Linked DNA regions of Homo sapiens: regions 1, 2, 3 and 4 are each linked to region 5. The links come from fine-mapping of genetic effects on gene expression. A gene starts in region 5. Each other region holds a variant in brackets. All regions are shown on one strand. Distances are between the middles of the regions.

Region 1 (4,609 bases), 40 kb before region 5:
ACAGCATCCCCATCCCAAGTCCTGACAACTAAAATTATCTGAGGCATTGCCAGGGTGGCAAAATCACATGGATCAGAACCACCGCACTAAAGTTTTTTACAGCCTTTCTGGACAGGCTATAGAATCTTAAATCAAATGTTGACCTCAGACAGAAGTTGCAAGACAATGACAGCAGTCTTTTAGCCACGTTAGCAAATGATATAAACCCATTAGTAAATCCACCGGTTCAATTCCACTCCAAGAGTTCAAGGCATCTATGTTAACAAAGAATTACAGTAAGATGGGACATGTTACATCTGTGTAGTGTGGGGAAAAAAAAAAAAAAAAGATGGGACACATGTGGACACAGGCTATGCACAGACTCTACTTCTGGGCTTTCTAAGGGATCAACATCCCAGCTCACGAGACTCATCTTCTGTACAGCAGAGTTTCTCAAAGTGTGATCTCTGGACCAGCAGCACCAGAATCCCCTGAAGAGTTAGAAATGCAAATTCTCAGGACCCACTCCAGGTCTATGAATCAGGAACTCTGAGAGTGGGGCCCTGCAATCTGTATCTTCTGATGTTCTCCAGGTGATGCGGATGCAGGTTCAGGTTTGAGAACGTGCCATACAGCTTGCTTTGACACACCAAATGGGAAGCACTTGTCTGACATATACGCCAATACTCCCAACCCAACCCTGGCTCATTAGCAAAATCCCTACCTCAGCCTGGGGAGTTTTACTGGGGAGTTTCTTGTTTTGTTTTTCGGTAAACTTCAATATGTTACCCAATTATGCCTGGGGAATTTTAAAACAAAAACCCACAGACACCTAGAACCGCAACCTAAATGACTGAATCAGAACAAGCCAAGATGAAACCCAAGTGGCGGTCCTTAAAAAGCTCCCCTCACCCAGCACATCCTGGTTATCAGCCAGGTCTGGGAACCATCTGTACGGTAGAGAGAAGAAAGAGGGTATAGTCAGGTACCTGGGAAGTTGGAGAGGGTTTGGAGAAAGGGACACAGTTTGAGCAAACTTTAGGAAAAGAATTTGGAGTTTACCAAGAAGACAAAGGAGGAAGAAGGGACAAATTTTCCAGAAAAATGGAGCCACACAGCCAAGACTTATTGCTTGGAGACAGCAGAGAAAATGCTGCATGGGGTCTGGGGTGATAATGGGGTAATCAAAGGTCTTGTGTTCTAAACTCAGAAAGTTGGACTTTATCCTAAAGATAACAGGGAAATTGTGAATGTTTTTAAGCTACTTTGTATATGATGAACTGTGGAAGGCAAGGAAATCAGTCAGGAATTGGATTTGAAAGAAACTTCACCAATACAGTGACTTGCATCCTTTTATTCAAGCAAACTAGATCCCTTCACCCTCCCAATATCCCCAGTCTGCACAATTCTCACCTCCCCTGCTTGGTCGTAACTCTGTGACTCTACCACAAAAATAAGCAGATGCACAAGAAGTCAGTTTAAAATTCCACATCCTATTTCTCATTTACTCTAGGATCTCAAAACAAGAAAAACATCGCAACCCAAGTCATCTTTTCAAAAACAATTTTGTAAATGTCCTATTTCATAGAAAAGGAAGAAGCAACTCTAAATCAAATTTTTTACTCTGAAATTACCTAGAATTCCCAGGCCCAGTGGCTCACGCCTGTAATCCCAGCACTTTGGGAGGCCGAGGTGGGCAAATCACCTGAGGTCAAGAGTTCAAGACCAGCCTTGACCAAAATAGCGAAACCCCGTCTCTACTAAAAATACAAAAATTAGCTGGGCGTGGTGGTGCGTGCCTGTAATCCCAGCTACTCAGGAAGCTAAGGCGGAAGAATCACTTGAACCCAAGAGGCAGATGTTGCAGTGAGCCAAAATCACACCACTGCAACTCCA[C/G]CCTGGGCGACAGAGCAAGACTCCCTATCAAAAAAAAGAAATTACCTAGAACTAGCATAGCAGTAACATAAAAAGCTGTATCTATGAGCAGCTCTTCTTATCCACAAAACATATCTTAAATTCATTGTCATTAAAACAAGATATTAGAAAGGAATGGCTTATCCATTTACTAGTATTAATGGTGACATGGCTATTGAAGAAGAAAAAAACACAAAAAAAAGTAATAAACCTTATATACAGAGTTTTACACAATTAGAACTCCAATCCTACATTGACTGAAGACAGTAAGCTAGCACATTAGAGGTGCAAGATGTACAATACCAATAAACAGTCAAAAATCTACTGCATTACTATATTCTAATGATACTGAAAACGTTAATAAGAAATTAACTTCAAGCCAGGCATGGTGGCTCATGCCTATAATACCAGCGCTTTGGGAGGCTGAGGCAGGGGGATCTCTTGAGCCCAAATGTTCGAGACCAGCCTGGGCAACATAGTGAGACCTTCTCTCCACACAAAAAAAAAAAAATTTAATTGGCTGGGCACAGTGGCACACACCTGTAGTCCTAGCCACTCTGGAGGCTGAGGTAGGAGGAATGCTTGAGCCCAGGGGCTTGAGGTTACAGTGAACAATGATCAAAAGTATCCACTAGGTTGGGAGGCCAGCCTAGGGCAACATGCCTGGGGGGCAGCTCTCAGCAAGTTCACAAGCAGCAGCCTGGGAGCACAGCCCTGGGGCCCCGCACACCAGGTCCCAGGAACACTCTCTGCAAGGAGATGGCCCACGTGGCTGGGGCCCTGGTGACAAACAAGAGGACTGAGCAAAGAAGTCAACGTGTTGAGGACAGCAGGAGTCAAGTTTCTCACTACTGAAGGATGAAGATACAAATATGGAAAGAGGGAGAACCAGAACAAAGCATGAGATTTTTGAACTGTGATTTGAAGCACTGGTGTGAAGTCTATCTAATTTGTTTCCTAATACAGATCTATATAAATAGATACCTAAATAAAGATAGAGAAATCAATATACACTGATCCTCTTTAGTGACAAATCCTGTATTTGTGAGTTTGCCTACTTGCTAAATTGTAACCCCAAAAATCAGTCCTCCAGGTGTCTTGCAGTCCTTCACGGACATGCACAGAGTAGCAAAATATTTGAGTCACCCAACATGCATGCTCCCAGCTGAAGTCAAACGAAATGACACTTAGACTTTTTTTTTTTTTTTTCCCAAGACGGAGTCTCACTCTGTTGCCCAGGCTGGAGTGCTGTGGTGCGATCTCGGCTCACCACAACCTCCGCTTCCTGGGTTCAAGCGATTCTCCTGCTTCAGCCTCCTGAGTAGCTGGGATTACAGGCACACGCCACCATGCCCGGCTAATTTTTTTGTATTTTTAGTAGAGACGAGGTTTCACCATGTTGGCCAGGCTGGTCTCGAACTGCTGACCTCAAGCAATCCAGCCACCTTGGCCTCCCAAAGTGCTGGATTTACAGGTGTGAGCTACCACGCCCAGCTGACACTCTGCCTTCTTATTCCCGCTCTTAGAGTAGAAACAACTGTCCTTCTTGTGGGCTGTTCAGTACCATGTTCTTCACATTTTGGGGACTTTTGTGGGTGACTTCGCTGTCTAAAGTGGCCCCAAGCATCATGCTCAAGTGCAGTCTAGTGCATCAAAGCGCAAGGCGGGTGTAATGTGCCCTACAGAAAAAAACGTGTGTTACAGAAGCTTCCTTCAGGCATGAACTATAGTGCTGCTGGCTGTTAATTCAAGGTTAATGATTAATTATATATTAAAAAAGGTGTCTCTAAGCAGACACATGCATAAAACAAGGTTATATATTAAATGGCTGACAAAAATGTGACCAAAGGCGCATAGGAACCTAACCCTGTATTTCGCCTGGAAGCAATGGTTCAGTATTCACTAGTCCTGTGTTTGTGGAGACTTTATAGAGCTCCACTAGTAACAAGAACCAACTGTATATGTATATGTGTGTGTATATATATACACATACACACAAATATATAAATAATATGTGTTGATCTGTGTATGCAAATACATTCTAGCTTTGTCCGCTTAGAGTTCCTAGAAGCAATGAGATCCCATAACAATAAATATGCCTAGGCCGGGCACAGTGGCTCACGCCTGTAATCCCAACACTTTGGGAGGCCAAGGTGGGTGAATCACCTGAGGTCAGGAGTTCAAGACCAGCCTGGCCAACATGGTGAAACCCCGTCTCTACTAAAAATACAAAAATTAGCCCAGCATGGTGGCATGCACCTGTAATCCTAGCTACTTGTGAGACTGAGGCAGGAGAATCACTTGAACCCAGGAAGCAGAGGTTACAGTGAGCCGAGATCGTGCCACTGTACTTCAGCCTGGGTAACAGAGACTCTGTCTCAAAAAAGAAAAAAAAAAAATGCATAGTACCCAGCACTCTTTCTAAATATAGTATCCACTTATGAAAAAGAATATGTAACTTTTCTTTTTAATGCAGAGGCTCTTTTGAGAAATGGCTGAATCCAAGATCGGGGCAGAAGAAGTACAAGACATGTCTGAACTATCTTTTTGTGCCACAAAAGTAATGAAATGTTCAAAGAATCCCGACAACATGTCCAAAGGACCCAGGAGCTCCCACTGGCCAAACCTGGGACAATCTGAGCACCAAAATAAATCATAAGTGTAATGGATTCAAATCTAATAAATAAAATTATTCATAAGTCCATAGTGCTATAAA
Region 2 (4,609 bases), 53 kb before region 5:
GGCCCTCAGCTCTGTTTCCCCGAGAGGGGAGAGGTGACAATACCTCTCCAGAAGAGCAATTATCAGATTTGGCTTGGTGAACAATTATTTGTTGAGCACCTGTAAAATGTCTTACATTATTCTGGGCTCCGATCCAAAATCACTTCCTCTAAACCACAGGGCACGCACTCCTCAAGGCTGTAGGATCCTCTTTTGACCAGGAGTGACTCTTAGCATTTAAAACATTTACCGAGCACCAACATTGTCCTACCATAGAATAAAATACTCTTCTTCCATGACACTGCATTTTAATTGGTTACAAGAAAAACAATAATGACCTTGAACTTCAGTCACTTAAGTATTCACCTGGATAAATACGCTCACTGAACTAACTACCTAATACTTCCTAGACATGTTTAATCCTTAGACCTTAAAATACCTTCAAACCCCATCTGGCCACTTCTCCCTTCTGTTCCCCCATCCATTACAGCACCAGTCAATGGCGAGCACATTTACTCTATGTGTCCTGAAAAACAATTCATGGTATGTAAAAGCTTTTACCTCAATTAACGTAAAAATTCCCAAAACTAAATAAGATTTCCAGTAACACTTTATGATTGCTCTTGTTAAAGAAGGCTTCTGTGCGTCATTCTCAGCTCTTAAAACTTCTTTATCCCAGAACCTACAATGAGGAAAAAGCTTCGTAAATAAGAGTGAACCCTGCCACAATATAAAACAGGGGAGATGGCAGAGTGACAGGTATGCATTTAAGACAGGGCATTTTGTGACGATTTCATAAATGCTACTAATTGCTCCCAGGGCTCCTGAAGGTTATGTGTGGTACAGAATCTGGAGCATCAGAAAAACAGGCCTTGAGGGGAAGTCTGGGGAAACAAGTTACTGCCAAGCTTTACTGGATTGAAGCCCCATCAGTAGCACAGATAAGCCAGACAACCTCCTCCAACCACAACACTTCCACCTAGAGGGACAGACCTCAGGCATCTCGGGCCTTTGGTGCTGGCTCCCCTGACCTCTACGGAGGCACAGGCAACAGGAGTTTCCCCCAGGCCACCATGGTAGGCTGAGCCTAGGGGCAGCCTGAGGAAGGTGACACATATTCACCTTAAGGGTAAACGGAGGCTCCAGACAGGACCCAGGAAGGCAAAACCCACTCCCCACACACAGACACCCACGCTTCCTTAATGCCCACTTTACTGCCTCCGACTTACCCTTGCAACTCCTCTCCAAGGTGCTGTGAGCGGTCTTCTGGCAGCACTGAATACATATCATCTTCCTCTAATCTCCGTTTATGGCCAATTTTAAACAAGGGATTGAGCCACCTGTTAACAAGAGAAAAGAGACATATATCCAGAATTACACATCCGTGTTTAAGTAGACTCCTACCTCCATGGGTTTTGCTTAAACTTACCTTTAAAATACATACAGCTATATATAGACAGACAGATATGAATATATAGAGCTAGAGAGAGAAAAGTTAACATGTGCACACACACACACACACACACAGTCCCTAGCTCTATCCACAGACAGGCCCCAGAAGCAATGACACACCAGTAGCTGAGAGCATGCTGGTGCCCAGATCTTGGTTTCCAAAACCATTATTATCTAAAAGGAACCAGAGCTTCCTGAAGAAATAGCTGATTCAAAGGCTGGGGCAGAAAAAGATGGCCCATGAGATACCATACGATAAGGAAACATTCAAGGAATCAAGAGGATGGGCCCAAAGAACAGAGGACCCAGCTTGACGGGGTCCCACTAGACAAGTCTGTGATAATGGAAGCATCCAAATAAATCATGACAGCAATGAATTCTAACCCACTGAATAACAAAAGAATCCACGAATCCTTACTGAGACATAAATGGGGTAAGAAGGAAAAACTCTCAGATAAAGAATGATGAGGTTAGAAAACATTTTCAATGGGAGCTAAAACCAGTCAGTGAAGGTTTGATGGGACATTTACATAATCCAAAATTATCTAGGTACAAATTATTTATTAGTTACGAAAGGACAAAATAGTAATCTTGCAGAGGACAGAAAGAACTTATTCAAATATTTTGAGATTCTTTTTAC[T/TA]AAAAAAAAAGAAAAATCAAAATGGTCATCCATTAGGAATCACTTAAATGATATTAACATTATTAATCATTAAATGATAATAATTAACATCATTAATCATTAAATGATAATAATTAACATGCACCAGGCATAGTGGCTCACACCTGTAACTCCAGAGCTTTGGGAGGCTGAGGAGGGAGAATGGCTTGAGCCCAGGAGTTTGAGACCAGCCTACACAACATAGTGAGATGCCCACTTCTACTAAAAACTTATAAAGAAAAAGGCTGGGCAGTGGCTCATGCCTGTAACCCCAGCACTTTAGGTGGCTGAGGTAGGCGGATCACTTGAGGCCAGAAGCTCGAGACCAGCCCGGCAAAACCCCATCTCTAGTAAGAAAATATAAAAATTAGCGAGGTGTGATGACACATGCCTGTAATCCCAGCTACTCGGGAAGCTGCGGCACAAGAATCACTTGAGCCTGGGAGGCAGAGGTTGCAGTGAGCTGAGATCGATGCCACTGCACTCCAGTCTGGGCAACAGAGTGAGACTATCTCAAAACAATAAAAAATATAAATAATAATTAAAATTTAGCCAGATGTACTGGTGTAAGCCTGTGATCCCAGCTATTCCAGAGGCTGAGGTGGGAGGATGGACTGAGCTCAGGAGGTCAAGGCTGCAGTGAGCTGTGATCGCCACTGCACACCAGCCTGAGCAGAACAGCAAGGCTTTGTCTAAAAAAAAAAAAAAGAAGAAGAAACATATTTGTGCCCTATAAGGAAACCTCTAATAACTTTGATAGATGCAATTACTCAATTACACAAACTTCTTTCATCTTGGCTGTCTTATCTGGCCATGTGTCACCTTTAATAGGCATGTTTTATTTTAACATGGGGATTGTCTAATCTAGGAAGCCCTTCCCATGGGGAACCCACTGCCTGGTGGCTTCTGCCTGCAGTGAAATGGTGGGCTTTCAATGCCCCGTAAGATTGGAGCACACACTGCAGGGGTATCCAAGTTATGTTCAGGATTCCGGAAACCTCCTGCTGATCCAAACTAGCAATTCTAATTAACCCAATGGCAAGAAGAACTCATCAACTCACCTCTTTCTCCTCACCTCCTCCAAAATGTGTCCAGAAGACTGTAACCTAACCAGTCCAGCTTCAACTTAGGTGGGTTTCCCAGACATGCCTGAGATGACCTCTGCATGCCCGAGACCTCCCTTCCAGCAGAACCTCATACAGTATATTTCAGCAAGGACTTCTAAGTAAAATTCACTGGTGTCTTTTTGGACTAAAGAGGTTTTTTTAATCAGGGAATAAAACTGGCTCCAGGAAGTTAAAAAATTAAGGAAAGTGAGAATGGTAACTCTGTTCCACAGGCTGAACAGTTAACTGCATAACATTTAGAAATATTAACAAGGAGGGATGCCACTGTTGAGTTAAAGTATCTGCAATCAGAAGAGACCCAAAGCTTCTATTAGAGGATGACACAAATCAGTAAGGACTTAACAAGGACCCTCCTACTCTCTCTCATTGCCCAGATCTCAAAAAGCTGGGCTGAAAAGATGTGGGTACCAGCAAGAGCTAAAGGCTTTTGCCTGATGACAAAAGTCAACTTTGACAAGAGACTAAATTATCTTTGACCATCTATGTAAGGACTTTATACATGGAAATCTAAGTCAGTTGGCTCCTTAATACCAATGTGTCCCTGAGGGGGTCTAGTCAACAATTCCAGACCACTGCCAAATGAGCCATTCCTCCACCCAGTTCTGCCCCAGTAGCCCTTCTCTCCTCAGACTTAGTCTCTTCTCCCCCTTATCTCCCACAATACTTAGTACAGCAGCATCGCTTCCCTCCTAACTGTCCTACTAGGAGTACAATGCTTTCAGGGCAATGACTACTGCCATATTATTTGGAATCCCCATTATGCCTGGTATGTGATAGATACTCAATAAACAGTTATGGAAAGAATGAATGATTGTATTATTGAATAAGACAGATGGGTAGAGTACCTTGAGCAATGATCTAGGGTAAAATTCAATACAAACTCAATATAGCATAGTCGTGCTCAATGCCCAACACAGGAAGCCATCAGCTTCAGCAATACAGAGACATTCTCCACCCCAGGATCACAACCCCCAGCATCATTTCCAGCAAGCAGGAGTCTTAGACAAGGGTTAGTAGAGAGTTTTGTTATTTATTGTTGGTGGTGGTGGCATTTAGTTTTTGTTGTTTTTTCCCCCAAGGATTTGAGAAGTTCTGAATACTGGTTTCTTTTTTTTTTTTTTTTTTTTTTTTTGAGATGGAGTCTCACTCTGTTGCCCAGGCTGGATGGAGTACAGTGGAGCGATCAGAGCTCACTCAGATCCGATCAGAGCTCAGCAGTCTCAAACTTCTGAATTCAAGCAATCCTCCCACCTCTACCTCCCAAGTAGCTAGGAGTACAGGCACATGCCACTGTGCCTGGCTAATATTTTTATTTTTGATAGAGACCAGGTCTCTCTATGTTGCCCAGGCTGGTATCGAACTCCTGGGCTCAAGTGATCCTCCCACTTTGGCC
Region 3 (4,609 bases), 120 kb before region 5:
TTTTTAAAATTTTTTTTTTATTATTATTATTTTTGAGACAGAATCTCACTCGTCATCCAGGCTGGAGTGCAATGGCGCTATCTCGGCTCACTGCAACCTCCACCTCCTGGGTTCAAGCAATTCTCCTGCCTCAGCCTCCAGAGTAGCTGGGATTACAGGCACCCGCCACCATCCACCACTGATTTTTGTATTTTTAGTAGAGATGGGGTTTCACAACGTTGGCCAGGCTGGTCTCGAACTCCTCAGGTGATCTGCCTGCCTCGGCTTCCCAAAGTGCTGGGATTACAGGCATGGGCCACAGTGCCCGGCCAACACAGAACCTTTAGAGAAGTAATTACACTAAAATGAGGCCATGAGGGTGGGCCCTACTCTAATCTGACTGGTGTCTTTTCAGGAAGAGGAGATTTGGATACAGAGACACAAGGAGAAAAGGGTGAGAAGGCAGCCATCAGCAGGCCAAGAAAGCCCTCGGGAGGAGCTGCACCTGCAGATGCATTGATCTCACACATGCAGTCTCCAGAACTCTGCAGAAACAACCTGCCGCTGTGGAAGCCCCCCAGCCTGTGGCATTTTGTGAGGGCAGCCCTGGCTGGCCAACACAGGACTTCCAGAGCTTTCTCTCACGGTACCTTCTCTATCCCCCACCACAGGAACAGGTGCCTGCCTGCTGTCCTTCCCACAGGCCTCACTCCTTCCCGTCTGCACACCTCTGCTTCTACTATTTCTTTCAAAGGAATTGAATCCTACTCTCAGCCACCACAAACCCTTACCAGCCTGCAGGACCACAGGCTACTTCCAGCCAAGCCCGGCCCTCAGTGACCTTTCCAATCTCTGCTGCCCACTTCTTCCATTTAAAAAAAAAGATTGTCGTATGCCAGGTGTAGGGGCTCACACCTGTAATCTCAGCACTCCAGGAAGCCGAGGGCAGGGGGGGGGGGGGGGGGGGGGTGGATCCCTTGAGCCCAGGAGTTCGAGACCAGCCTGGGCAACATAGGGAGACCAGCCTAGACAACATGGCAAAGCCCCCTCTCTTCAAAAAAACACTGAATGAGCTGGGCATGGTGGTGCTAGCCTGTAGTCACAGCTACCCGGGAGGCTGAGGCAGGAGAATCTCTTGAACCCAGGAGGTCGAGGCTGCAGTGAGCTGAGAATGCACCACTGCACTCCAGCCTGGGCAACAGAGCGAGATCCTATCTAAAAAAAAAATAATAATAAAATAGATTGTCCTATATTGAAATCCCCTAAGCCTTGGGGTCTGTTGAACTTTTCCCATGCACTTAGTCTTGATCCATGCAGAGACAAATTCCTTATGGGCAAGAATGAAATCTGAACTTGTCTCTCTCTCACTCAGCCCAGCATGGGTGCTTATCTTCTCTGTGGCTGACTGCCCTCCTCTGCAAGCGAAGATGTTTCATGCAGTAGCATCTGCAGGAGCATCTACCTCAGTGTGCGCAGAAGGGTTACAATGAGTGGGAAAGGCTCACTGACTTTAACAAGGCGAAAAACAGGAAGCTGACTGTGGGGCAGATGTGAGTGCTGTTTTGGCAAAACCAGTTCACAATGCTTTCAAAAAGGCCAGTCTAGACTATGTAGGAAGTGTCAGTCGGCACACATGAGTTTATAGAATATACAGAAAAGATTCCAGAGTAGTTCTACCTCCATGGCTCAGTGTCTAAGCAAGAGCCAAAGAAAGAAAATCCCAGAAACACCACGTAAGAGTTGGGAGGGAAGCCAGATTCTAGACAACTAGTTTCAAAGGCAAGCCAGGCCTACATGCCTGTGGGTTTTAAGTGTTCACTCTGGTAAGAATCCATGAAGCAACATTAGATTCTTGAAACCACAGTCTACTATGGAGCAAATCATTCTTAAATTCTAGATTTTACTAGTAGGTTATCTCCAAACTGACAGATTAGTATGTAAAGAGCAACAAAGCCTTCCCAAGAAAGCCCTATGTTGGTCCCAAGGAC[G/C]TCACTTCTAACCTGTCATAGAGAAATGATGGAGGAAAAGAGCTGAAAGACAAGGCTCAGGTTGCCAAGTGCCACCCTTCCATTGAAAAATGGAGTACCATCTTTCCTATCTCCGGGGCCTGGTCCATCAGCAGTTTCTTGGTTATCAACTGTAATTACTAGTAGGGGAAAACTTGCAAAATTTGCCATCTGTTTCTCAACTCCCTAAAACATGATACACTCCACTCACTGCAACACACTGAAATCACTTTGTGTATTTTCCTACCTTGACCTTGTATTTCTGCAAAATTTCTCTAAAATGGATCTTCAGGGAAGCAGGGGACAGTGTGGGGAGGGGAGCGGACACCAGAGTAGGATGAGCTGAAAGCCATAAAGGCTTTCCTGAGCCAACTCGAAATGGCTCTGGAAAAGCAGAAATGACTTAAGACACAAACACACTCACAGTTCGAACAAGTGTCTGCTAACTTCCGCATCTACTGCACTGAGAGGATCGTCCAGGAGATAGATGTCAGCATCTTGATACACTGCTCTAGAAAATACAAAGAGGTATCAGACTCTCACCCAGGAACATGACAACTTTCAACAACTGGGATGTTCATTCAAATGCCAACAGAATAACCCAAGAAGGTGCTTCACACAGGACGCAATACACAGTAAGCAGGTCCTATGTGCTCACCACCACTGGAAGGTATCAAAAGACACCGGCATAGTGGCTGCTGAAATGCAACTTACCTTGCAAGGTTTACCCGTGCTTTCTGCCCTCCACTCAGCGTGGTTCCCCGATCTCCTATCACAGTCAGATCACCATCCTCCAACAGCTGTAAATCCTGTATGGACAAAGGAAAGAAGGGGGGAAAAAGAGACTTAAAACATGTTCTTCCTCTGTTCTTTGTGTTCTTCCAAAGTTATCCTAAACTTTGCACATTAGTTCTTCAGAAATTTACATGTATTTGATCAACAGCAATGGAAATATTTCATAGTAACTAAATTGTAAGTTTGAACCTATCAAATACACAGTCAGGGCACGTTATCTATTTTAATGCTGTAGCTTTTCATAGCATTTATGCACTGAGCCATTTTAACAGAAATTTTTTGAGCAGCAACTCCTTGTGAATTCAGCAGCGAAAGAGTTTCCACAGTGAGTGACCTGACAATAAAAGATTGACACAAATGTAAGAGGTGATAAGTGCTAAGAAGGAGAAGGAAGCTGGCTTAGGGAGACAGAGTGACAGAGGGAAAGTCCACTTTATATAGGGAGGTCAACAAGGGCTCTGATCGAGGGGGTCTGAGCAGAGACCTGTCAGGGGATGGACTGGCTGGCACAGAGTGCAGGAAGAGTGCTCCATAGAGGAATGAGCAAGCACAAAACCCATGGGGTGATACGTGCCCAAGGTGTTCACAGAAGAGCAATATGGATGCACACGGAACTGCGAGCACAGGATGATGGCAGGGGAGGGCAGAGACAGAGGCAAGAGAAGCCAAGGGCTCACACCCAGGGAAATAGGAGGAAGGACATGATCTGATCAAGGCAATAATTGAGACAAGAAACAACAGTAGCCGGGACCGGAGTGGGGAACAAGGAAGTGAACATCAGTGGTCATGTGCTGAACAAATTTTAAAGGTAGCACCTATAGGATCTGCTGATGAGATGGGTTTGTGTTGTGATAGAAAAAGAGGAGGACTGCATTGGTTTTGGTGTAAGACAAGGGAAGAACAGGGTTACCATTTACTGAGCTGGGGGAAATGAGGGACGCAGATTCAAGAGATAAAATCAAAAGGTTGATTATGGCCAAACTGAAATGCTGACCGGCTATCCTGACTTGCGGCTGGATAAGTGAGTCTGGAGGTCTGTGCTGGAGACCCAACCGTGAGGGCTGTCAGCATAAAGCCACGGGACTTACTAAGGAACAACTGTGTCTTCACAAGCCATTTTGCGACTTTTGCCTCAGCTTTCCATTCTCAGAGAAGGGATAACACCCGCCCCATCTTCACAGTGATGCTTAAGGCATCACAATAGACTGACAGAAAAAAAACTGCAAAGAATAAGAGCAGAAAGAGCAGCCCAGTCAGGAAAAGCCAAAGGGAAAGGAGCAGAGTGCTCATGAGACACTGCACAGACTGGTTGCACTAAGTAGACTCTGGCTCCATGCAAGACCCCAAAAAACAAAAGCTAGGAAGGAAAACAAGTTTTTATTTGAGGATCCAACCAAAGTTATATTTAAAAATTATTTAAGAAATAAGTTGACAAAGCATAATACTTTTTTTAAAAAACATGACAAGAACATCCCTGAAAATAACAGGATAATGATCAGGTTTAAGTTACAGGACATTACATTAGAAATCTTTACTTGGATGGCCTATAATTATCACTAGACAGATCCTAGCATAGACAAAAGGTGTGGAGAACATCGCTGGGTATTGACTGAGCTGCATAAGCATCAACCTAGGACACTACAGAGATAGCCCTCTTACAGATCAAGGTGTCATTTCTTTGTCTCTACTCTGACAAAGCCGGGGAGACAAAGCAAATGGCACATTGAGATCTCCATGACAAGCAAATCCTCTGACCTCCCTAAGTTCTCATTTTATCTCTTTTACAAAATATCCTGGAGAAACAAGAATTAATAAACTCATAGAATGCC
Region 4 (4,609 bases), 23 kb after region 5:
GCCTGGCCAACATGGTAAAACCCCCATCCCTACTAATAATACAAAAATTAGCCAGGCTTGGTGGTGCATGCCTGTAATCCCAGCTACTCGGGAGGCTGAGGCAGGAGAATCGCTTGAACCCAGGAGGCAGCAGTTGCTGAGTGAGCCAAGATTGCCACTGCACACCAGCCTGGGCAGCAGAGTGAAACTCTGTCTAAAAATAAATAAATTAATTAAATATAATAAAATGTTAAAAAAAGTTCATGGCATTCTCTTATTAACAATTTATCTCTGAATATGTTCTCCTTAATTCCTTATCTTGCCATCTTTGCTGCTTTTTTATTTTTTTTTTTTTTTTGAGACGGAGTCTCGCTCTGTTGCCCAGGCTGGAGTGCAGTCTTGGCTAACTGCAACCTCCGCCTCCCAAGTTCAAGCGATTCTCTTGTGTCAGCCACCTGAGTAGCTGGGACTACAGGCATGCACCACCATGCCTGGCTAATTTTTGTATTTGTAGTAGAGACGGGGTCTCACCATGTTGGCCAGGTTGGTCTCAAAACTCCTGTCCTCAGGTGATCCACCCCCTTCAGCCTCCCAAAGTGCTGGGATTACAGGCGTAAGCCACCATGCCTGGCCAAGGTCTGGCTTTTCTTTATCAACCAATATGAAAATTTCTGTTTCTTATTTGATAAGCTTAGTCACTTTTAACTTAATAAATTATAATTTGGACTTATTTCAACCCTGTTATATCAACCTTCCTATTTATCCTGATTGTACCATGCCATTTAAGAGGAAAAAGGACAAAATTAAATATATAATATGGGTATATATTTTCTTTCTTTTTTTTTTTTGTTTTTTGGGATGGAGTCTGGCTCTGTCACCCAGGCTGGAGTGCAGTGGCGTGATCTCGGCTCACTGCAAGCTCTGCTTCCCGGGTTCACGCCATTCTCCTGCCTCAGCCTCCCCAGTAGCTGGAACTACAGGCACCCGCCACCACACCCAGCTAATTTTTTGTATTTTTAGTAAAGACAGGGTTTCACCGTGTTAGCCAGATGGTCTTGATCCCCTGACCTCGTGATCTGCCCGCCTCGGCCTCCCAAAGTGCTGGGATTACAGGCGTGAGCCACTGCACCCAGCCAGGGTATATATTTTCTACACTTCTAGGTAAAAATGAACAATATTGTGGAAAAGAGACCAGAAAAAACACACCCAAGTATTAATGATCTAGTGGTTTTTCTTCAAGAAATAGAATTATGGGTCATTTCTTCTTCTTTCTATTTTTTAATATTTTTCTAAGTTGTCCATGATGAACATACATACATATATATGTCACCCAGGCTGGAGTGCAGTGGTGCAATCTCAGCTCACTGCAACCTCCGCCTCTGGGTTTAAGCAATTTTCTGCCTCAGCCTCCCGGTAGCTGGGATTACAGGTGCCTGCCACCACGCCCAGCTAATTTTTGTATTTTTAGTAGAGATGGGGTTTCACCATCTTAGCCAGGCTGGTCTTGAACTCCTGACCTCATGATCCACCCGCCTCAGCCTCCCAAAGTGCGGGGATTACAGATGTGATCCACCGCGCCCGGCCAATGAACTTATATATTTTTCTTTTGAGACAGAGTTTCGATCTTGTTGCCCAGGCTAGAGTGCAATGGTGCGATCTCAGCTCACTGCAACCTCCACCTCCAGGGTTCAAGTGATTCTCCTGCTTTAGCCTCCTGAGGAGCTGGGATTACAGGCATGTGCCACCACGCTCGGCTAATTTTGTAGTTTTAGTAGAGACTGGGTTTTCCATGTTGCTCAGGCTGGTCTCGAACTCCCGACCTCAGGTGATCCACCCGCTTTGGCATCCCAAAGTGCTGAGATTACAGGCGTGAGCCACCGCGCCTGGCCTGATGAACATACATTTTTAAACAAACAAACAAAAAACTCATGAGCCAGCAAATTAAAATAAATGTTATTGAAGTAGTAGAAGTGACGAAGATGGTAATGAGCCCACATCTTTCTAATGCCCAGCCTTCCCTTCGTACTGCCCGAGGACCACTTGGACTTCATCCAGAGGGAGTACTCACTCACCAAGCCTTACCCTGAGCTTTCCTTTCATATCCAACAAATGGCAGAGTCCTCACCTGGCCCTGGCAACTCCTCAGGGCGTGGGAGAAAAGCTGCGGCTCAGGGCTCAGTGTGGCCGACCGAACACTCAGGGCCTTATCCTGCCATTGAGCCTCTCAATGATATCAGCAGGATGTGGCCCGA[A/G]GGTTTTTCCTCCCCTGGTTTCCCCAAACAGAAAATGCTGGCCTTTGTTTAGACAGTACTTTGATGGATTGTGGATAGGACCATTTTAAAACTTTATCTAAATTAGATGAAAATGTCCTACAGCCACTTCAAATTTAATTTGTGGAGGTAATGCTTGTTCACTCTTGGTTCCTAGCCTGGAAGCCATTTGGACCTTTTGAAGTGCTTAGCCTGGATTTAATTTTGAAGTACATTTTATTTTTCGTAAATTCTTGTTGCTGTTTCTAATGCCTTAGTAATGTGGGTCTGTATCTTTGCTTAGGAGTTTTGTCTTTCTATATAGTACAGTAATTCCCTAACTTTTAAAATCTAGCTACTTTGTAAAAAACACAAAATCTCACACATTTTTCAAGTGAATTAAACACAGGACCTAAAAAACAAACCTTTGTGTTGCAAAGGGAAGCAACACAGCTTTACTGGATACAGAGCTCCACACAGGGCTGTTTTAAAATCTTTGTAAAGTCTGGACAGGACCAGCTACGTAATTTGTAGGGCCTAGAGCAAAATAACAATGTGTGGCATGGCCAGGTGTGGTGGCTCACACTTGTAATCCCAGCACTTTGGGATGCCAAGGTGGGTGGATCACCCGAGGTCAGGAGTTTGAGACCAGCCTGACCAATATGGTGAAGCCCAGTCTCTACTAAAAATACAAAAATTAGCCCGGCATGGTGGTGGATGCCTGTAGTCCTAGCTACTCAGGAGGCTGAGACAGGAGAATTGCTTGAACCCGGAAGGCGTTGGTTGCAGTGAGTTGAGATCACATCACTGTACTCCAGCGTGGGTGACAGAGTGAGACTCCATATCAAAAAAAAAAAAAAAGAATGTGTGGCTCATTGTTCAAAAATTACGAAGACTTCCAAGGCTGGTGTGGTGGTACATGCCTGTAGTTTCTGCTACTCTGGAGGCTGAGATGGGAGGGTCACTTGGACCAAGTAAGTAGAGGCTGCACTGAGCTACATGGTCACACTGTACTCCAGCCTGGGCAACAAAATGGGACCCTGTCTTGAAAGAAAGACAGAAAGACAGACAGAAAGAGAGAAGGAAGGAAGGGGAGGGGAGGGGGACGGGAAGGGAAGGGGGAAAGGGGAAAGGGAAAGGGGGAAGGGGGAAGGGAAGGGAAGGGAAGGGAGAAGGAAGGAGGAAGGAAGGAAGAAAGACTTCCAAGATGAGAGCAGAGCATTAAACCAGTCTCGGGGCCCTTATGAACTTGTGACCTCGTGCTAAATGCACAGGTCAGTTGCCTGCAAAGCTGGCCCTGGCTCTGGATACTTTCAGTGGGTCCCACTGCATGTTATATCACATGTCATAATCATTTACATCCTACACATGTTTTTTATTAGAACAATTTTCTTTTTTCTTTTCTTTTCTTTCTCTTTCTTTCTCTCTTTTTTTTCTCTCTCTCTCTTTCCCTCCCTCCCTCCCTCTCCTCCCCTCCCCTCTCCTTTCCTTTCATTTCCTTTCCTTTGTTTCCTTTCTTTTTTTCTTTTGAAACAGAGTCTTGCTCTGTCACCCAGTCTGGAGTGCAGTGGCCTGATCTTGGCTCTCTGCAACCTCTGCCTCCCGGGCTCAAGCAATTCTCCTGCCTCAGTCTCCTGAGGAGCTGGGATCACAGGCGCCCGACAACACACCTGGCTAATTTTTGTATTTTTAGTAAAGATGGGGTTTCACCATGTTGGCCAGGCTGGTCTCCAACTCCTGACCTCAAGTAATCCACCTGCCTCGGCCTCCCAAAGTGCTGGGATTACAGGCGAGAGCCATCATGCCTAGCCTACAACCATTTTCTCTTTTTTTTTTTTTTTGAGACAGAGTCTGGCTCTATTGCCCAGGCTGAAGTGCAGTGGAGCGATCTCAGCTCACTGCAACCTCCGCCTCCTGGGTTCAAGCGATTCTTCTGCCTCAGCCTCCCAAGTAGCTGGAATTACAGGCACGCAGCACCATGCCCGGGTAATTTTTTGTATTTTTAGTAGAGACAGGGTTCCACCATGTTGGCCAGGCTGGTCTCCAACTCCTGATCTCAAGTAATCCACCCGCCTTGACCTTGAAAAGCGCTGGGATTACAGGCATGGGCCACCGTGCCAGGCATACAGACATTTTCAAAGAGATTTTGCTTTTGAAATTATGTGGCTACAAGTAACTCATGTTATGATTGGCTCTGATTGCTCTACAAATAGTGTATATGTTTAAGAATTTTTGTGCAGTGAGAAAATCAGAACTTTCAAATTGCTTTCCAAGGAATCAATACATTTATGACTATTAAAATTGGCAATAGATGAAAGTGTCATTGGTGATGTCCTATGAATACTTAACCACACATTATAAATCAATATTGTAGTGAGACA
Region 5 (4,609 bases):
ACAAAAAAAATTTTTTTTTATTATCCGGGCATGGTGACACACACCTGGAGCCCCAGCTACTCGGGAGGCTGAGGCAGGAGGATTGCTTCGGCCCAGGAGTTGGAGGCTGCAGCAAGCTATGAATGTGTCACTGCCCTCCAGCCTGGGTCACAGCTTGCACAAAGCAAGATCCTGTCTCAAAAAAAAAAAAAAAAAGTTCCTTGCCCTGCCTGAAGTTGAGGAGACCATTTGTCTACCTCAAGTTATTATTTGCAGAAACCACACCCATATTCCTTCCTCCTCCACGTGCCCCTCTCCTTAAGAGAAAGGCCGCCAAACAACCAAGAGAAGTTCCTACACCCACTGAGTGTACCACAATCGAAACAAGAGTAAGCGACTCATCCTCTTGGAATCCCCTAGGTCAAGCTTGTCCAACCTGAGGCCCATGGGCTGCCAAATTCGTAAGCTTTCTTAAAACATCAGATTTTTTTTTGCGATTTTTTTTTAGCTCATCAGCTATCATTAGTGTTAGTGTATGATTAGTGTTAGTGTATTTTATGTATGGCCCAAGACAATTCTTCCAGTGTGGCCCAGGGAACCCAAAAAATTGGAGACCCCCACCCTAGGTTGTCCCATAATAAAAGGCAATATCAACATGTGGGAAAGATGAGGCGGCAGAGGTCAAGAAACAGAAGATCTAATAATCATCCAAGTGAGATTGAAGCCCTTCAAAGGTTCAGGCTTATGTAGTTAGCAGACGGAATTCCCCCACACACACCCGCCACTCCCCCAAGACGGAGTCTCACTCTGTCACCCAGGCTGGAGTACAGTGGGGCGATCTCAGCTCACTGCAACCTCCGCCTACTGGGTTCAAGCAATTCCCCTGCCTCAGCCTCCTGAGTAGCTGGGATTACAGGCGTGCTCCACCACACCCGGCTAATTTTTGTATTTTTAGTAGAGACGGGGTTTCACCATGTCAGCCAGGCTGGTCTCGAACTCCTGACCTCGTGATCCACCCACCTCTGCCTCCCAAAGTGCAGGGATACAGGCGTGAGCCACCGCGCCAGGCCAAGATGGAAATTTTAGTTACTACTGTCACCCGAGTCTTTCTCCGTTTGTTTCCTTGCACAAAATGGGTAGGGCTGTGGGCCCTCCCAGCTCAGGAGCCCTGGGGTGGTTTTAAGAAGGTAGAACTCCTGGTAGGAACCACCTGCATCAAGACCATGGATCACCTCTCTGAAGGTTAGCGATTCCAGGGACCCCACCTCCGAGCTGTCCTCCTACGTGGAAGTGAAAGTATTGGAAACAGGGGAAAGAAGCTGGTCAAAGACAGACTCCAGTCGTGGCGGTGCATGTCCCAGTTAAAAGCAAATCCTGGAAAATCTTGTTCAAGAACAGGGTCCCCATTCATAAATGAAAAATAATAATAGTGTTATTTTACCCACATGAAACTTGCCATAACTAGGTACCACGACCCACATGGACACACAGTGAGATTCCCACAAAGAGGCAAAAGGAGAGCCCTGGTCACTGAGACAAAAGATACAGAGACACCGGGACACAGAGAGGTACAACGGGACGTGGAGTTGGATCGAGCTGTCTCGTAAGGAATATCGGAAGGGGTGGGGACACTACTGGGAGATGGCATAGGTCCAGGACACTAATTAGGCTTTGGCTGAGATCAGATAAAGGAAACTGTTCGTAAGCTGCTTACTTAAAAAGAAAGGAAAAGGTGCGTTTGAGTTCAGGAGACTGCGAGTCCCAGAGCAGGAGGCGGGAGCCAGCGAAGGGTGGGCGTGTAAGGGGTGCAGTCGCTTCTCCCGCTGGGCAAGAGACTCCCCCTTTCGGCAGCCTGGGTTCCCCGCCTCCCCACCTCCTGCTCCTCCTCCCCCGAGCCCTAAGGGCCCGCAGGGCCTCCAGTAGCAAAGCCACTGGCCCCGCGTCCCCGCGTCCCCCTGCGCCGCGCCCCGGGGCGCAGGCAGGGACCACGCGGCCGGCGTGGGGGCGGCGCCACCCGCAGCAGAAAGCCCCGGCGTGGACCGCGTGGCGTAGGAAAGCGCTCCCCTCGCCCCCAGCCGCAGAGGGCTTGGGCAGCATCGGGCGCGGCCCCGGGAGAGTGCGTCCGCGGCGCCAGCGGCTGCAGGGTGACCTGTTTCGGGCGGGGACACTCACCAGAAGAACACGCGTGAGCAGAGGTTCGCGTCCTGCAGCGGGTTGGGCTTCACCTCCTGGTACACGGGCAGCATCTTGCCGGGCGGGGCGGGCGCGGGCCGGGGTCGCGCTGATCAGGCGGCGGTGGCCGCGGGCTCCGCTCCTGGACCTCAAGCAGGGATGCTGGGGCTCCGGCCGCCACGCCTGTCCGCTCGGCTGGAGCCTGTGAAGCAGCCGCTTCCGGGAGCCGGGCGCCGGCGGCACGCCCCGTCCCCGCCTCTCAGGCCCGCCGCCTCGGGGGCGCCCGCTACGCGCCGCCGCCTGGAGCCCGGGAGCTGCGCACCGCGTGCGAGCGCGGCCGGGACCGACGGGTGACGCGGCGGGAGGAGACGCGGCGGGAGGAGGCGAAGCTGGCGACGCCAAAGGGAGCCCAGAGCTACGCCCAGGGGTGAGGCGAGGGCCGCCTGCGCCGCTGGATGGAGAGGGTAGCAGAGCGCGCGGCAAGGAGGCCGGGTCCGGAGGTGCCCACGTGCACGAACCCGAGTGAAACTTTCCGAAATTCACTATCCGAGTCTAGGCGCCGACACAGAAGGTGGAGCAGGGAGGCGTCGGCTGTGCCCGCCCCTGCGCCGCAGAAACGCCCCCTCGGCTACGGGTTTGGGAAGACTGGGAGACAGCTGCCTCGTGCTCTAGCAGCCCGCCCCCTGGGCGCCTTTCCCTTCTCAGGACCAAACGACGGTGCCATGGGAGGCTCTTCAACCTGTGAGCCAAACATTTGACCTTGGACGACAGCAAAGTTTAGCCACAGATTATCCTTGTAGAGCTGCAAGACCTCAAGAAAGCCGGGTAACTCGAGAGTATGACCCAGATGAATTCGGGAGATGGATGAATGCTGTCGTCGATGGGGGCGGGCTTTAGGCATCTCACATGTTGCATGCTACGGTGGACCTCTGAGCTTTTTGCTGCCCCCTTAGATTGGGAAAGGAATATAAGAGGAAAGAGAGACTGCCTGATGATTTCTGTCGTCAAGCCCTAAAGCCTAACAGATAACAGTGGCAAACGACACGTGGGTTCCAGAATACCAGTGATGTTCATGTGCATTTCTGAGTGCGTAGCCTCACTAGTGTGTGTGTGTGTGTGTGTGTGTGGCAGTCTCACACACAGTGTCACGATTATGGCTCATTGCACCCTCGACCTCCCAGGGCTCAAGCAATCCTCCCAACTCAGTTTAAGTAGCTAGGACTACAGGCACCCGCCACCACACCCGGCTCATATTTTGTAATTTTTGTAGAGATGCAAAAATCAAAATCAAAGGCTCCAAGTTCAAATACTGATAATTTTTGAAGCCAAATGATTGTCATGGAGGTTTATTTTCTTCATATTTCATGCATGTTTGAGAATTTGGTTTTCTTTGTAATAAGATCATTTTATTGTTCCTTGATAATTTCTCACTTTGTTGCCCAGGCTGGTCTCAAACTCCTAGGCTCAAGTGATCCTCCCACCGTGGCCTCCCAAAGTGCTAGGATTACAGGCATGTACCACCACGCCCGACCAATTATCTCACTTTTAATTCTATCAGTGCCCCATTCAAGGTTATCCTTACTTTATAGATGAGGAAGGTGAAGCTGAAAGGCAGAACTTGTCCAGTCTTAGAGCCAAGAAAGGATAAAACATGATTTGCAATAAGCCTATGTCTAAGCATGGCCTGTCTCCCTGGTGGATGGCCAGTGTGCATGAGAAGTGCCCAGAATATGCTGGTTGAATGGCTGTAGGAATGAATGAACAAAATCTTGTTCCAAGCTTGTGTACTCCCACCTCTAAGTCTTCAGTCATTTCTGTGGCTACCTTAACAAGGTCAGCAGCTGCTCTTCATATCCACCCTGAATGAAAAAAAATGAAAGGCTCCAAGTTCATGGTGCTTGGAACAAGATCATTTTATTGTTCCTTGATAATTTCCCATGTATATTTGCTAAAATAGTATAGTTAATAGCTTTTAAAGAAAGCCTTACACAAACACATATTTAAAAGTCAAGCACAGGCTAGCCAGCATAGTGAGGCTCTGTCTCTACCAAAAGTTTTAAAAATTAGCCCAGGTGTGGTGGCGTACCCTTGTAGTCCCAGCTACTCGAGAGGCTGAGACAGGAGGATGGCTTTAGCCCAGGAGTTCCAGGCTACAAGGAGTTAAGAAGGTGCCCACTGGGCTGGGCACAATGGCTCACGCCTATAATCCTAGCACTCTGGGAGGCTGAGGCAGGTGAATCACCTGACGTCAGGAGTTCGAGACCAGCCTGGCCAACATGGTGAAACCCCATCTCTACTAAAAATACAAAAAATTATCTGGGTGTGGTGGTGGATGCCTGTAATCCCAGCTACTCAGGAACCTCAGGCAGAAGAATCACTTGAACCCAGGAGGCGGAGGTTGCAGTGAGCCGAGATCATCCCACTGCACTCCAGCTTGGCAACAAGAGTGAAACTCCGT

Alleles and levels. Positions count from the first base shown, and alleles are read on the strand shown. Sizes are in standard deviations (SD) of each study's normalised expression. Not every link is listed here.
For the expression in spleen of the gene that starts at base 2,362 in region 5, G is the low allele of the variant in region 4 and A is the other (moderate effect, 0.41 SD a copy in GTEx).

The links. PIP is the estimated chance that this variant, and not a neighbour inherited with it, causes the effect.
Region 1: its variant is fine-mapped to the expression of ABCC4 in skeletal muscle (GTEx, PIP 0.98).
Region 2: its variant is fine-mapped to the expression of ABCC4 in blood mononuclear cells (TOPMed, PIP above 0.99).
Region 3: its variant is fine-mapped to the expression of ABCC4 in memory regulatory T cells (Schmiedel 2018, PIP 0.95).
Region 4: its variant is fine-mapped to the expression of ABCC4 in spleen (GTEx, PIP 0.97).

The regions. Positions count from the first base shown.
Region 1 is chr13:95,259,546-95,264,154 of GRCh38, forward strand. The region is part of intron 1 of ABCC4 (ATP binding cassette subfamily C member 4 (PEL blood group)); the gene reads right to left. Among named protein-coding and RNA genes, the nearest start is that of ABCC4, 40 kb to the right of the region's middle. RefSeq lists enhancers at 2,571-2,630, 2,751-2,800, 3,391-3,510. The variant C/G (reference allele first, on the strand shown) is at 1,876.
Region 2 is chr13:95,246,435-95,251,043 of GRCh38, forward strand. It overlaps ABCC4 (ATP binding cassette subfamily C member 4 (PEL blood group)), which reads right to left. Exons shown (of 31, transcript NM_005845.5): 2 at 1,209-1,319; 3 at 541-661. Among named protein-coding and RNA genes, the nearest start is that of SNORD13G, 38 kb to the left of the region's middle. The variant T/TA (reference allele first, on the strand shown) is at 2,072.
Region 3 is chr13:95,175,298-95,179,906 of GRCh38, forward strand. ABCC4 (ATP binding cassette subfamily C member 4 (PEL blood group)) reads right to left here. Exons shown (of 31, transcript NM_005845.5): 12 at 2,700-2,794; 13 at 2,410-2,496. Among named protein-coding and RNA genes, the nearest start is that of SNORD13G, 33 kb to the right of the region's middle. The variant G/C (reference allele first, on the strand shown) is at 1,968.
Region 4 is chr13:95,322,212-95,326,820 of GRCh38, forward strand. No RefSeq gene overlaps it. Among named protein-coding and RNA genes, the nearest start is that of ABCC4, 23 kb to the left of the region's middle. The variant A/G (reference allele first, on the strand shown) is at 2,232.
Region 5 is chr13:95,299,090-95,303,698 of GRCh38, forward strand. ABCC4 (ATP binding cassette subfamily C member 4 (PEL blood group)) reads right to left here and starts at 2,362. Exons shown (of 31, transcript NM_005845.5): 1 at 2,152-2,362. The coding sequence starts at 2,225. It overlaps LOC102724149 (a long non-coding RNA gene), which reads left to right and starts at 1,862. Exons shown (of 3, transcript XR_429273.4): 1 at 1,862-2,174; 2 at 2,857-3,237. RefSeq lists enhancers at 645-704, 2,307-3,081 and silencers at 1,898-2,537, 2,568-2,627, 2,808-2,867.